Regions from separate parts of the Homo sapiens genome. Here region 1 is linked to region 2. A link means that fine-mapping ties the variant in region 2 to the expression of a gene that starts in the linked region. Tissue or cell type: regulatory T cells. Region 2 holds a variant in brackets; the other region holds the start of a gene. All regions are shown on one strand. Distances are between the middles of the regions.

Evidence for each region. PIP is the estimated chance that this variant, and not a neighbour inherited with it, causes the effect.
Region 1: it holds the start of PSMD2, and the variant in region 2 is fine-mapped to the expression of PSMD2 in regulatory T cells (Schmiedel 2018, PIP 0.95).

Annotation. Positions count from the first base shown.
Region 1 is chr3:184,295,729-184,303,832 of GRCh38, forward strand. It overlaps PSMD2 (proteasome 26S subunit ubiquitin receptor, non-ATPase 2), which reads left to right and starts at 3,513. Exons shown (of 21, transcript NM_002808.5): 1 at 3,513-3,673; 2 at 4,123-4,179; 3 at 4,552-4,716; 4 at 5,809-5,930; 5 at 6,119-6,343; 6 at 6,642-6,800; 7 at 6,951-7,095; 8 at 7,274-7,334; 9 at 7,592-7,738; 10 at 7,915-8,021. The coding sequence starts at 3,539. RefSeq lists a silencer at 3,181-3,520.
Region 2 is chr3:184,415,143-184,423,246 of GRCh38, forward strand. LINC02054 (long intergenic non-protein coding RNA 2054) reads left to right here. Exons shown (of 4, transcript NR_161199.1): 2 at 7,811-7,990. Among named protein-coding and RNA genes, the nearest start is that of LINC02054, 18 kb to the left of the region's middle. RefSeq lists an enhancer at 1,137-1,638. The variant TTTC/T (reference allele first, on the strand shown) is at 3,076.

The DNA of each region.
Region 1 (8,104 bases), 120 kb before region 2:
GACAGATTGCATTAAAGTTAGATTTGGAACTCAGATGCCCTTAATCACTATCAGTTAGTCTTCCAACACGACAGAATTTAGACTGAAACACACACATCTGTCTTCTGGGCAATTTCATCATGCTTCTGAGTGGGACCATCACCAGCAGGTGCATTTCCATGCAACCCAGATTCCCTGGGCAAGGCACATGTGACAACCAGACAGCTTCAGGAAACCTAAGCACACATTGAGCTGAAATCAAGCCAGGGAACACCTGTTTGTTGAACACTCTGCAGGTGCTTGGTTCCAGAGGCAAGCCAAGGTGAACATCAGGTAAGAGATGTAACCTTTACCCTTAGTAGCCCTGTCAGGCTGAGTATGCGTATGTGATATGCTCTGGTGTGTCCAGGCAGAAGGGGAAATAAGGGATGGTGCTCCTCGGTGGACACAGGGAAGCAATTATAGGTAAAGTGCTAGGCCATCCCTTATGCAGTCCCATTGGTAAGTCTAACTAATTCCCATCCACAATAAGCTAACATATGCCAAGAAGTATGATTTCACACCCTTGATAGCACTTTGGAAATGTCCGGGTGGAAGAGAGTCCCTCATAAAAATAAGCACAGTTTTCTGCAGGATTGGAGGTCCTATTTTTTTTTTTTAATTAAAAAAAGCAGGCTGGGCGCAGTGGCTCATGCCTGTAATCCCAGCACTTCGGGAGGCTGAGGTGGGTGGATCACTATGTCAGGAGTTCAAGACCAGCAGGAGAATCGCTTGAACCCGGGAGGCGGAGGTTGCAGTGAGCCGAGATCGTGCCACTACACTCCAGGCTGGGCGACAGTGGGAGACTCCATCTCAAAAAAAAAAAAAAAAAAAAAAAAAAAAAAAAAAAAAGCAGTTTTAGTGGGTCTATCATGATTTACAAATGGAGAAACCTCATGATTTTCCAGTGCCTAGTTCTGGCCTCCAAAGACAGCTCCCAGTGGGTTGTTATTATACACAAAGATGGCCTGAAGATGAATGCAAAGCCATTCATTCATTCATTCATTCCGCATGCATGCATTCTGCAAATATTTATCAAGGCTCACTACAAGCCAGGCGCTAGGCTGGAGGCTAGGAGCATAAAGATGAATAAGACACAGTTCCAGGCCGGGCGCAGTGGCTCATGCCTGTAATTCCAGCACTTTGGGAGGCCAAGGCAGGCAGATAACTTGAGGTCAGGAGTTCAAGACCAGCCTGGCCAACATGGTGAATCCCCGTCTCGACTAAAAATACAAACATTAGCGGGGTGTGGTGGTGCATGCCTGTAGTCCCAGTTACTTGGGAGGCTGAAGCAGGAAAATCACCTGAACCCGGGAGGCAGAGGTTGCAGCAAGCTGAGATCATGCCACTGCACTCCAGCCTGGACGACAGAGCGAGACTCCGTCTGGAAAAAAAAAAAAAAAAGAAGAAGGAAGTCATGGATAAAGAGGAGTTTTAGAAAAAAATCCCTCTACAGATGACTGAAGAAAGCATGAAAATGTATGGACACCGTGAAGCCAGAGATAGAATAGGCAGAACAGTTATGGACTGTTGAATTTTTGTCTGCAGACCAGCGCTGGGGGAGTCATTGGCAATGGCAATGGAAGGTCATGCCTAGAATCCAAGCACTGAGTGGAAAAGAGCAACAGGTATTTAAAATGGATTCAGACCTTTACTTCCGTATCTACACAAACATTTACCCAACATTCACTCTGTGATATGTTGTACTAGGTGTCTTTTTCTTCAATGTGTCAGAACCCATAAAATAAGATTGCTAGAAGACTCCTGAGTGTTCCCACTAGGTGAAAGGGAGAAGAGATACTTCCTTTTTTCTCACCTTACACGCACACACACACACACACAGCTGAAGAAGAAACTCTGGGGTTTGCCTAAAACAGTCAAGGGCTTTGAAGACTGAAAGACTGAGCTTTAAATTTTGATTCCGCCGGGCGCGGTGGCTCACGCTTGTAATCCCAGAACTTTGGGAGGCCGAGGCGGGCGGATCACCTGAGGTCGGGAGTTGGAGACCAGCCTGACCAACATGGAGAAACCCCGTCTCTACTAAAAATACAAAAATTAGCCGGGCGTGGTGGCACAAAAATTCAACAGTCCATAACTGTTCTGCCTATTCTATCTCTGGCTTCACGGTGTCCATACATTTTCATGCTTTCTTCAGTCATCTGTAGAGGGATTTTTTTCTAAAACTCCTCTTTATCCAGCTACTCGGGAGGCTGAGGCAGGAGAATCACTTGCACCCGGGAGGCGAAGGTTGTGGTGAGCCGAGATTGCGCCATTGCACTCCAGCCTGGGCAACAGGAGAGAAACACTATCTCAAAACAAATAAATAAAATAAAAAATAAATCCTCATTTTACTACTTGATATGATCTTCTCTGTAAAATGGACCTAACCCTACCAATCTCAAAAGATTGTAAGAAGTGCATGGAATCACTCGAAAGCAGTCCTGACATAAGCGCGTCAGTCACACGCCTCTAAGGCTTCACAGGGAAAGACGAGAAGATAGAGGACGAAGACCTTGTCTTGTTCTGCTTTTAGCTCCAGAACTTGGCGGGGAGCACAGGGCTTTATTGATCGATGTCAACTCCACCTGGCTCCCCAAAGTATTTAAAATGGTAGCCACGGGAATAGCAGAGTACTCTCTTTCAACTGGGGAGGAATATCAAATGAGGTTAATAGGCCGGGCGCGGTGGTTCACACCTGTAATTACAGCTCTTTGGGAGGCTGAGGCGGGCAGATCACTTGAGGTCAGGAGTTCGAGACCAGCCTGGCCAACATAGTGAAACCCCCGTCTCTACTAAAAAATACAAAAATTAGCTGGGCGTGGTGGCGGGCGCCTGTAATCCCAGCTACTCGGGAGGTTGAGGCACGAGAATCACTTGAACCTGGTAGGCGGAGTTTGCAGTGAGCCGAGATCGCGCCACTGCACTCCAGCCTGGGCGAGAGAGCGAGCCTCCTTCTCAAAAGCAACAACAACAACAAAACCAAATGAGGTTAATATTCCACAGTGGTGTGGGGCTAGACACAGTTACACAGACTTTATACAGGCGGCAATCAAGCGTCCTGGACGTCAAGAAATCTAGTTTGTCTGTCGCGCCACGCAGTCAACTGGAGTGTCACTGTGGGTTCTATTTACACCGTTATGAGAAAAACCTGTGGCGGAGTAAAACTCGGTAACTCCGCTCGCAGACCGCCCATCTACAGCAGTGAGCGAACCCAAACCCCACACGGCCAAGTCCCGCGGGTTTCAGGAAACTCCGAAGAGGTCGGGGGCCAGGGGCGACTATGGCGCGGGGGAGGCTGGGAATTGTAGTCTCCACCTGCCTCCGAGGGCGGGGTCCGAGGGCGGGGCTCTCAGGCCGAGGGGGTGGGTGGGTCGCCGAGCGCCCCGGCTCGCCCCGGCGTTTCCGGTCGCAGGCGGGCTCTGGAGGAGGAGGGGCGCCGCGACCGACGCGCGCGAGTTGGTCTGGGAAAAAGGGCGGTGCGAGCGGGTGCGCGCGCAGCGGGCCGGCAGTGGCGGCGGAGATGGAGGAGGGAGGCCGGGACAAGGCGCCGGTGCAGCCCCAGCAGTCTCCAGCGGCGGCCCCCGGCGGCACGGACGAGAAGCCGAGCGGCAAGGAGCGGCGGGATGCCGGGGACAAGGACAAAGAACAGGAGCTGGTGAGGCGCGACCCCGAGAGTCGGCGAAGGAGGCTGCGGGGCTGAGTCACGGCGGCTCCGCAGGCCTCAGGCCCGACACCCAACTACCCCACCGCGCCAGGGAGAGGGCGGTTGGGGCGACCCTCGGGACTCCCGGCACCTTGCCTCTCTGCTCCTCATTCTCCGTTCCGCGCTGTCACCTCCGCCGTCCCCACCAACCCTCACCACCGCCGCGTGAAGTGGACTCGGGCAGGTCATTGTCACCTCCGTTTCCTAGAGTGGCATTCAAGTAGAGCCTGATTCAGAACCCAGGCTGATTTCTCACCAGGGCTTCCCATTCCCACTCGGTTTCCTTGTCCACCTGGCCCCTCCTAAGGAGGCAGGCTTATTCTTCACCTGCCCCGGGTAAGTGGGAGGAGGACGTCTTTGGGATTCCTTCTCTTCATGAGCTGCTTCTCCCAACCCTCCAGTCTGAAGAGGATAAACAGCTTCAAGATGAACTGGAGATGCTCGTGGAACGACTAGGGGTGAGTCACGATGTTAACATGATTCGGTGCATGTTTGGATCTTTCCCACTTGTTTTATTCTTTTTTGAGGCAACTGCTATGTACGGTGGACTGTATTTTAGGGTCAGTGTTATGATGATGTTGGGAGGCAGGAGAGTTACAAAGGGTATTTGTACAGTTTTGCAGCTTTCTCTTGTGGGAGAAGCAGAGTTCTTACCTCTTAACTTGGGTCATTTGTTTTTGTGCCAGGCAGGGTGCAGGGAGTTGAGGAATCACAGATGAATGAATAAGACACAGCATTTCCTTGGAGGAGTTGTTAAGTTAAATATCTCTGTATTATGACTTGAAGGGGTGTGACTCCTTTTTGTCTGAGCCCTGTCGTCTCTTGATCAGGAGAAGGATACATCCCTGTATCGACCAGCGCTGGAGGAATTGCGAAGGCAGATTCGTTCTTCTACAACTTCCATGACTTCAGTGCCCAAGCCTCTCAAATTTCTGCGTCCACACTATGGCAAACTGAAGGAAATCTATGAGAACATGGCCCCTGGGGAGAATAAGGTAAAACTGTTTCAAACCTGGTGGAGGCCTAGTTTAGGAATTCCTTTTTACCCAGATCATGGGGGGACTCATTGTGAGTCACAGGAAGCCTGATAGACCTAAGCCGTGATCTATTTGAGCAGAGTTCATCACAGTCAAAATATCTACAGAAGAGCTGAAAGGAAGGTCAGCTTCTCAGAAGACACTGTTTCTGTCATGTGTATTGGACTTTGGGGTTTCATTAGCATGGTCTACTTTTAACGTATGTTTAACCTTGATTTTTCTCTTTTCTTCTATCCCATATACATTCATTTATCTCTAAAATATGTTCCACATTCAGTCACTTCTCTGCCTGCTGGTACAACCCTAATCCTGGAAATGTTCAGTTTTTGCATGGGTTATTGCAGCACCTCTTAACTGATGTTGTTGCTTTTGTGCTTTGTTCCTACACAGTCTGTCTCTCATGTAGCAGCTATCGTGATCTTTCTCGGTTATAGGTCTTTTCTGCTTAAGACCTTTTAATAGTTTATAATTGCAATTAAAGTAAAATTGAGAGCCTCCATTTTTTTCCACTTTATCCCTCATTTATCACCCTTCAGCTGTGTTAGTTTAAAAGGAAGACAGTGGCTGGGTGTGGTGGCTCACACCTGTAACCCTAGCACTTTGGGAGGCCGAGGGGTGGATCACCTGAGGTCAGGAGTTTTAGACCATCCTGGCCAACATGGTGAAACCCCGTCTCTACTAAAAATTAAAAAAAAAAAAATTAGCTGGGTGTGGTGGTGGGCGCCTGTAATCCCAGCTACTTAGGAAGCTGAGGCAGGAGAATCACTTGAACCCCGGAGGCAGAGGTTGCAGTGAACCGAGAGCACACCATTGCACTCCAGCCTGGGCAGCAAGAGCGAAACTGAGTCTCAAAAAAAAAAAAAAAAGGAGATAGCAACAACACCAACCTTGGTTTTTGTGAGGTTTAGCTTACATAACATGTTAAATTTCTAGTACAGAGATTGGTATGTAGTTAGTTCAGTTTCGGAGACAATGATCTTGATTCCACAATGCATGCTCCCTTTATGCTGGACTGCTGGGTTTGACTTCAAAGAACTCTTTTCTTTATAGCGTTTTGCTGCTGACATCATCTCCGTTTTGGCCATGACCATGAGTGGGGAGCGTGAGTGCCTCAAGTATCGGCTAGTGGGCTCCCAGGAGGAATTGGCATCATGGGGTCATGAGTATGTCAGGTAAGATCTTTCTTCTTGGGAATCCGAAGGGGGCTCTGAGGCTCTGAGATAATTCAGAATTTTCTTGTGGAGTACAATCTGTCTTGGAGCATCAGTGTATTGAATTTCCCAGACGCTGGATTCCTTGACCCACAGAGAAGTGCTTCCCCTGAAGCTGTGCTCTCTTAATCGTCTGGGACTATCTGTAGGCATCTGGCAGGAGAAGTGGCTAAGGAGTGGCAGGAGCTGGATGACGCAGAGAAGGTCCAGCGGGAGCCTCTGCTCACTCTGGTGAAGGAAATCGTCCCCTATAACATGGCCCACAATGCAGAGCATGAGGCTTGCGACCTGCTTATGGAAATTGAGCAGGTGGACATGCTGGAGAAGGACATTGATGAAAATGCATATGCAAAGGTCTGCCTTTATCTCACCAGGTGAGTGAACATGGTAGGGAAGGGTGGCAGGCATGCCCTCCTCAGCACCTCTCTCTCAATTGCGCCTCCTCTATTTTCCCAGAGCATTTGCTCAAGCATAGCATCACGCTGTAGTTAATCTTTTGATGTGTGTGAGTTTCTTGAGGACAGAGACTTTGTGTCTTCTTAGTAGTTCTAACATCTAGCACAGTGCCTGGTGTATATAGTAGATATTTATTATTTATTTTGGGTAAGTGAATTCATGGGGAAAATGAGTGCCTGGGACTTTCTGAATTCTTTGTTACTTTTACTTTTGTAGTTGTGTGAATTACGTGCCTGAGCCTGAGAACTCAGCCCTACTGCGTTGTGCCCTGGGTGTGTTCCGAAAGTTTAGCCGCTTCCCTGAAGCTCTGAGATTGGCATTGATGCTCAATGACATGGAGTTGGTAGAAGACATCTTCACCTCCTGCAAGGATGTGTATGTAGGGAAGAAGCTGGCAAAGAGATAAGCTTACGAATAGGACACTTGCATAAAGAGCTGGGACTTGTAGTTTCTGGTTAGGGCTTGAGGGGTTTTCCTGTGCCCTTAGTGGACAGTGATGAGCAGATGTACGGGCTCTCTCCACAGGGTAGTACAGAAACAGATGGCATTCATGCTAGGCCGGCATGGGGTGTTCCTGGAGCTGAGTGAAGATGTCGAGGAGTATGAGGACCTGACAGAGATCATGTCCAATGTACAGCTCAACAGCAACTTCTTGGCCTTAGCTCGGGAGGTGAGACTGCCCTTTTTTCATCAAGGCCTTTTCGTCATAATTCTACCTGCCATTTCACCTCCCTGACTCTACCTCTGACTAGACTCTCCTTGATTAGAATTGCCATTCAGTGGGATAGCAGAAGGGACAGCTGGGGGAGTTCTAGGGAAGCAATTGTGACCCTCTGACTTCTCTTCAGCTGGACATCATGGAGCCCAAGGTGCCTGATGACATCTACAAAACCCACCTAGAGAACAACAGTGAGTAGCCCTCTCTGTGTATGGGATTTGGGGGATTGTAGGTATGCCCCTTGTATTGGGAGTGATGGCTTGGCCAACATGCTTATCCTATCGAGCTCAGAATCCTCATGAATCTTTTTCAGGTCACTGCTTGGGGGGGTATAGGTAGAGGATACTAAGGGACTAGCTCAGAACCAGAGACCAGTTGCCATGCTGTGTTTCTTTCCTGTCCTACCTGAAACCTTCTTTCCTTACTTTTCCTCTCCCTCCTGTTGCAGGGTTTGGGGGCAGTGGCTCTCAGGTGGACTCTGCCCGCATGAACCTGGCCTCCTCTTTTGTGAATGGCTTTGTGAATGCAGCTTTTGGCCAAGACAAGCTGCTAACAGATGATGGCAACAAATGGCTTTACAAGAACAAGGACCACGGTATAATTCTGTTCCTGCTTTGTCTTTTGTTTTGCTTTGATCACTTCTTTTGTCCTCTTGGAGTCATAAGTTATCTGACAAGGGATCCACCATGCAGTTCTTTGGAGAGCTCTTTATAATAACAGGATCCTCAGGATAGGGCCATTTTAAGACTAATAGATTCTTCCCTGGTATAGGAATGTTGAGTGCAGCTGCATCTCTTGGGATGATTCTGCTGTGGGATGTGGATGGTGGCCTCACCCAGATTGACAAGTACCTGTACTCCTCTGAGGACTACATTAAGGTTGGTCTGCATACAGCCTGCTCATGGGGACTTCCCCGTTCCATATTCTAGTGCCTAGCAGTGCCTCTCTTTCACTGATGAGG
Region 2 (8,104 bases):
TTCCCCTAGATGGATCATGAAGACGCAAAACCGTGGGGTGGGCTGGCAGGGTCACCCGAAAGTGAGGAGCACTGCCATCTGTTTTCTCTTCCCTCTTAGTGATAACATGAAGGAATTGTCCCGAACAAGTGCATTTCCCTTCGGTAGGCCTCACTACCGAGGCTATTGATCAGCTTACTCTATTACCACATCAAAGGAAAATGCCATCATGGGTGGCTCCGGCAGAGCATTTGGGTTCTTGGTGATTTTGCTAAGAATCTCTGAGGAGAGGCAATGAAGGCTCTTAATTGCATATTTCCTGTGTACTCATCCTTCTTCTCCAAAACAAATGACATTAGCTTTCTTTTTTTTTTTTCTTTTTTTTTTTTGAGATGGGAGTCTCTCTCTGTCACCCAGGCTGGAGTGCTGTGGCACTATCTTGGCTCACTGCAACCTCCGCCCCCTGGGTTCAAGCAATTCTCCTGTCTCAGCCTCCCGAGTAGCTGGGACTACAGGCGCCTGCCACCATGCCCAGCTAATTTTTGTGTTTTTAGTAGAGACGGGGTTTTACCATATAGGTCAGGCTGCTCTCGAGTTCCTGACCTCAGGTGATCTGCCTGCCTTGGCCTCCCAAAGTGCTGGGATTATATGCGTGAGCCACCGAGCCTGGCCTAACTTTCTATTTCAACTGCACAGAACTACCCATACGTGTCAGCAGGGGCCTACTTTCCTTCACATTAGGTTTTCACAGTCTTTTCCCTCTGCCTGGAATACCTGCTCTGCCTTTTCTGCTCCAGCTAGGTTGGCATATTTGCAGGTTTCAAATCTGCCTGTCATATTCCATCCTCAGAGCCTTTACGATGACTGTTCCGTCTGCCTGGAATGTTCCGCCCTGACGTTTCCGCATGGCTTGCCCTTCATTTCATTCAATCTCCACATTTCCACTCAAATCCTACCTCTCAGCCATCACTGTCAATTGCCCTCCACCCGAAGACCACCAGGATCCCACCTATAGTGGAGCACTTGGGGTTTATGGCTGGTTGCAGTGAAGGGGAACGCACGCCATGGGGCACTGTGGGCGTATCAGTGAGGGGGTGTCAGAAAGAACTTGTAGGGTTTGGGCTTGTTTCTGTCTAGTTCCATCACAGCCACAGAGTGGCCTTGTCTGATGTTGATGTTCTGTGAAACTGTTTATGTTCAACAGGAGAGCACCATGGGCCTGCAGTGAGTGCCAGGCCAAGGTCTGGACAGCAAGAACTGCTTTACTCTTCTTCACCACTGAATCCTTAGTGCATAGAACAGCAGCTGCAGGGAGGGTGGCAGGTGTCGAATGAAAACGTATCGAATGAATCGATCAAGTCTGTCTGCCTGGCAAATTCTTACTCCACATTCAAGTGCCCAGCCAGAAGCCCCTCTTCTGGGTGCCGTCCCTGACTCTCCTGGGCGGACCCTGATCTGGGCCCGGGCTGTGCCTGCAGAGTCTCACTAGAGCGGCTCCTGTGAGTCATGTCAGGGGGCTCTGCAGCCAGTCTCCCCACTGTGCTGCGAATGCCTTGAAGGCAGAGACACATCCCTTCCCTTAGAAGCCCCAGTGCTAAATACAGAGCAGGTGCGCCATAACTTTAGTGTGACTGACAGACCAGCTGCAGGCCCAGCTCTGCTGTGTTTGAACTGTGCCTCTGGCAGGGGCTCCAGAATTCTGTGTGTGTTCCCTGAGAGTATAGGACCTGTGGGCCACTGGGTGGGAAATCATTAAACAGGAGAAGCCCAGGCCCCAGCAGCCAGAGGGTATGTTTGTGAGTTTGTGATTCTCTGGGACACCTTCAGGGCCTGAGGACTTTGGCCCCCATGTGAGGCCTCTGCAGTGTGACTCCATCTGGGCCTGGCTCCTCCTCAAAAAATGCCCCCAACCAGGAGCGGTGGCTCACGCATGTAATCCCAGCACTTTGGGAGGCCAAGGCGGGCGGATCACCTGAGGTCAGGAGTTTGAGACCAGCTTGGCCAACATGGTGAAATCCCACCTTTACTAAAAATACAAAAATTAGCCAGGCATAGTGGCACACGCCTGTAGTCCCAGCCACTCTGGAGGCTGAGACGGGAGAATCACTTGAACCCAGGAGGCAGAGATTGCAGCAAGCCAAGATCGCACCACCACATTCCAGCTTGGGTGACAGACTGACTCTGTCTCAAAAAAAAAAAAAAAAAAAAAAAAAGACCCCCATCCCTGTCGCCCAAGGCCCAGAGGAGGCTGATGGAAGCCCGCAGTTTCCAGGAAGGGCAGAGGAAGAGGCAGTAAGAGCCCAGGCACCTCCAAAACAGGGGCCATGGGCGGGGGGCGGAGAGGGAGGAGGGACCTGGTTATCTGGCTCTATTCTCACAGCAACCCCTTAAGGTATATACAACTATTATCTTTATTTTACAGATGAAGAAACAGAGGCACAAAGAGGTTAAGTAACTTGCCTAGAGATACACAGCTAACAAGTGGCAAGTGGGATTTGGACTCAGGTCTATCTAATCCTCAAACCCATGTCCTGGACCCCTACACAGACTGCCCTCCCTCAGTCCTCTGTGTGGCCTCAAGAAGGGTCTGGACATTCAAGTTTAAAAATCCATCCAAAGAATCTATGGACCCAGTGGTCTCTGGAGTCAATGTTCTGAGGCTCAGAAGGGCCAGGCAGGAGGGAGCCGCCTCTACACAGTCCTGAGCAGAGTGGGCTGTGTCCCGGCACAGCAGGGGAGATCATAGACAGAATTCTGCCCTGGGCCCTATTTAAGTAGGACCTTTAGGCTGCCGGTGTCATGACCACAGGTCCCAGGTCTGCACGATTGGCTGTGTGTGGAAAATCTTCACTCCTTGCGGCCTTGTCCTTGGCAGAGAGCACCGCTGCTTCCTCTGATGGCCACCAGGGGGAGGCGCTCCCCTGGGAACGGTTTGAAGGGGAGCCTCACCCCACACGTGCCTTCCGTGGTACCCAGCACCAGCTGCTACCCATGGTTACCCACAGGCCCAGCTCTGCTCTGAGGAGGGAGGAGTGGTGGCGATCAGGCCTTGTCTGCATCCCGTGGCTGCCCCTTTCTTTTCTTTCTTTCTTTCTT[TTTC/T]TTTTTTTTTTTTTTTTTGAGATGGAGTCTCACTCTGTTGCCCAGGCTAGAGTGCAATGGCACAGTCTCGGCTCACTGCAACCTCTGCCTCCCAGGTTCAAGCGATTCTCCTGCCTCAGCCTCCCAAGTAGCTGGGATTACAGGCATGCGCCACCACGCCCAGCTAATTTTTGTATTTTTAGTAGAGACGGGGTTTCACCATGTTGGCCAGGCTGGTCTTGAACTGCTGACCTCAGGTGATCCACCCACCTCGGCCTCCCGAAGTGCTGAGATTACAGGCGTGAGCCACCGCCCCCAGACGTGGCCTCCCCTTTCAAAGAATAACCCTCAGCGTGTGTGTGTGTGTGTGTGTGTGTGTGTGTGTGTGTGTGACTGGGGAACACACGGGCTCAGTCTGTTATCCTGAGAGGAAATTCATAGTGAAGCATAAAAGCCCCTGAGTGGGCTGGGGACAGTGGCTCACACCTGTAATCTCAGCACTTTGGGAGGCCAAGGTGGGCAAATCATTTGAGGTCAGGAATTCAAGACCAGCGTGGCCAACATGGTGAGACCCTGTCTCTACTAAAAATACAAAACTTAGCCAGGTGTAGTGGCGCATGCCTGTCGTCACAGCTACTTGGGAGGCTGAGGCAGGAGAATCGCTTGAACCTGGGAGATGGAGGCTGCAGTGAGCCAAGATCCCACCACTGCACTCCAGCATGGGCAACAGAGTGAGACTCCATCTTTAAAAAAAAAAAATGCCTATTGGATTTTAATGAAACCATCTCTCCTCTTTTACCTGAATGAAAGCAGACATGGGACTTTCTACAGGTACGGCAGCCTCACAATTCAGTGCTGGACTTCCAGCCAAGACGGCAGAGTGGGCTCACGCTGTGGCCTCCTCTCTCTGTTCCAAACACACAGCAATCAGGAATAAAATAGAAAAAATGATAAACAAAAGGACATAGTTGGGCCCCAACCAAAATGGCTATCTCTGTGTACCACAAGCAGATCAGAAATGCAAATTGGTGACTGGGGCCAGGGGCCTGCTGGCCTCGGGGTCTGGAAACAGCAGTAGCTGCCAGACACAGAGCTCCTGGTAAGGGAGTTAAAGTGCTCCATGCTACAAAGGGGCCAACAGCCAGGTGTCTGGAAGCCAGGGCTCGGGGAAGGTTCCCTCTGCTTGTGAAAAGAATCGGGGGTGGCGGGGATGGAGTGAGGAAGCCAGCTGTCCACAAATAGCTTGGGGCTTGAGTTGTGGGAAGATGAGGACAGACTCTTGACTAGATGCTGAGCCAAGCCACCCTCTGGCTACGTGCTTGTAGCTGTGGTGTCCTCATGCCACAACAGAGTAGAGCCCTGCAATGCTATTGTAAGACCTCAACTGGGCCTGAGGTCCTAGCTCAGGATAGTTAGAGACAGAGTGAAAAACAGATGTAAAAACAAGGTGGAAAACCCTCCAACTCACTGTAAAGTTGTAAGCCAAAATAGATGAGAAACAATGGTAAGAAAAACAGTCAACAAGGCCGGGCGTGGTGGCTCGTGCCTGTAATCCCAGCACTTTGGGAGGTGAAGGTGGGAGGATCACCTGGGGTCAGGAGTTCAAGACCAGCCTGGCCAACATAGTGAAATCCCATCTTTAGAAAAAAAAAAAAGCAAGAAAGAAAAGCAGTCAACAGAATCACCATGTGGAATATGAGTTCACTGCAGATTAAATTAATTTTGTGAAAGTCTTACAAAGAATTAAAAATGTTTAGGATGCCAAAAATGGCAAATGAAGGCTTAATATCCATTGGAAATTAACAAGACATAAATGAAGGCAGATCAAAATGAAACTAGAACAAGTAGATGTGAAAAGAATCAATTAGAAATCTTAGAAATAGAAAGTTTGTTCATTAAAAGAAAGCTCAGTAGACAGAATAAATGATGCAAAAAGAGAATTATTGAGTTAGAAGACATTACTTAGGAATTAACATGAATACAATACACAAAGATTAAAAAATATAAAAGCAGTTATGAGATATGAAGGACAGCTTGCATGAAGGGCTATGTATGTCTAATAGGAGTTTCAGAGGAAGAGAATAAAGGGAATGGCAGTGAAAAATACATGAGGAAATAGTAGCTGAGAAATTTCCTTGGGGAAATTGCAGAACATCAAGGGCAAAGAGAATAAAACCTTACCATGGACCTGAGAAAAAGACAGATTACTTAAAAAGTAATTTCTGGACCTCAGCAAAGACTGAGGCTGGGGATGAGGGGGTAGTATCTTCAAAGTGCCAATTGGATTTTTATGCCCAGCTAACTTACAGTGGAAATTTAAGACAAAAGGGGCGTTTCGATACATGTAAAGTGCAGCCCCTCATTTAAAGAATTATTATAGGTTATACACTTCAGGAAGAAAAATGAACCAGAAAAAAAGGGGAGAGCACATGAAACACTGTTAAGCATAGAAATAGATAAAACATGTTGATAAATTTAAATGAGTGTTGACTACAACAGAAACTCCTTTATTTTTTATTTATTTATTTTTGAGACCGAGTCTCTGTCACCCAGGCTGGTGTGCAGTTTTGTGATCTCGGCTCACTGCAACCTCTGCCTCCCGAGTTCAAGCAATTCTCATGCCTTGGCCTCCTGAGTGGCTGGGACAGGCCTGGCTAATTTTTGCTTTTTTTTTTTTTGTTTTTTTGAGACGATGTCTTGCTCTGTCTCCAGGCAGGAGTGCAGTGGTGCTATCTCGGCTCACTGCAACCTCCGCCTCCTGGGTTCAAGGAATTCTCCTGTCTCAGCCTCCCGAGTAGCTGGGACTATAGGCACGCACCACCATGCCCAGCTAATTTTTGTATTTTTAGTATAGACGGGGTTTCACCATGTTGGCCAGGATGGTCTCAAACTCCTGACCTCGTGATCCGCCCGCCTTGGCCTCCCAAAGTGCTGGCATTACAGGCGTGAGCCACAGTGCCTGGCCTAATTTTTGCATTTTTAGTAGAGATGGGGTTTCACCATGTTTGTCAGGCTGTTCTTGAACTTCTGACCTCAGGTGATCCACCCTCCTCGGCCTCCCAAAGTGCTGGGATTTACAGGCATGAGCCACCATGACTGGCCAAAAACTCATTTAAACTTCTCATTTTTATTAAAGATATACATATTCATGTTTTTTTAGAACTCAAATAACTCTGCAGGGCTTATGTGGGAGCCAGCTTCTGGTCTGGCCCCAGTGATCCTCACCTCCTGGTGCTCATGCCCTTGTGTCACACCTTTCCACAATGAATAGGGCTGATCTGTGTAACCGGTAGGGTGGTGCAGAAAATAATGGTGTGTGACATCTCAGCTTAAGTGATGACAGACATTGCAGCTTCCACCTGTTTATTATTGTTATTATTGTTATTATTTTTGAGATAGGATCTCACTCTGTCGCCCAGGCTGGAGTGCAGTGGCACAATCGTGGCTCACTGCAGCCTTGACCTCCTGGGTGCAAGCGATCCTCCTGCCTCAGCCACCTGAGTAGCTGGGACTAGAGGTATGTGTCACCACTCCCAGCATATTTTATTGTTGTTTCAATCAGTTATTGTTATTTCAATAGTAATAGAGAACTGATACACTCACTTATGAACATAAATACAAAAGTCATAAATAAAATATGAGCAAAATGAATTAACTAGCCTATTTTTAGAGTTTAATACTAGAATGTAAGAATGTTTAACTTAATTTATGAATACTACTCACCATATTAAAAAATTAAAGGAGAAAATATTGATCATCTTAATAGATGCAGAAAATTCATGTGATAAAAAATTATATCCATTCATGGTAAAACTTAACCAAATTTGGAATAAAAGGAAGCTTTTTGAACATGATAAGGGTTATCTACCAAAAATCACCAGCAAACAAACTCAAATGGCACAAATCTTTTTTTTTTTTTTTTTTTTGAGATGTAGTCTTGCTCTGTCGCCCAGGCTGGAGTGCAGTGGTGCCATCTCAGCTCACTGTAACTTTTGCCTCCTGGGTTCAAGTGATTCTCCTGCCTCAGCCTCCTGAGTAGCTGAGACCACAGGCACCCACCACCAAACCTGGCTAGTTTTTGTATTTTTAGTAGAGATGGGGTTTCACCACATTGGCCAGGCTGGTCTTGAACTCCTGACCTCAGGTGATCTGCCTGCCTTGGCCTTCTGAAGTGCTGGGATTACAGGTGTGAGCCACCACGCCCAGCCCAGAAGCATTCTTTTAAACTCAGGAGTAAAACAAGGATGGCTGTTCTCATCACGTCTTTTCCACATTGGAGAACCTAGCCTATGCAATAATATAAGAAAAATGGTATAAGAATTGGAAAGGAAGAAATCCAAATGTGGCTAACCTCAAAAACATAAAGTTGAGCAAAAAATCACTTTGTATCACTTTGTAAAATGACATACAGAATGTGATACATTTTATATATAGTTTGAAAACGTAATGGGTATGTAGTTACATATATTTTATATAGTATAAACATACAGGAGAAAGATAAATGTCAGAATTCCATAGAGCTGGGTGTTGGGTGCTTGGGTGTCAGATATGTTAGTGTCTTTACTTTTTTGTTTGAAATATTGTAAAAGGAATAACAATCCAGATTTATGTAACTTAGTTAAGAAAGAATGGCCTCTGAGCTCCTTGTGTGTGCAAATTTCATGATTCTAGGGTTCTTGACATCCCTGTCCTGCTATATTGTGAACTCCCTGACCTTAGGGGCATTGTCTTTTTTTGCTCTTTATATTTCTAGGGCCTAGCATGGTATAGATGTTCAACCTGTGTTTGTTGACTGACTGAGTGAATGGAGAAAGAGGGAAATGCAAAAGAAAGAAGGAAAGGAGGAGGATGGATATGAACTCTGAGACAATTCTTTGACTGCCTGCATCTGACATGGACTTGTATGGAAAGAAGCAGATGGGTTTAAGCAAAGGTAGGGAAATTAGCTCAGCTGGACTTCAGGCATGATTAGAGGAAGAAGTCCAGGATGTTTTGTGAGCCTCCCAGTAGAAGGATGGCGTTGATGGCATCACCATCTAGGTAGGGA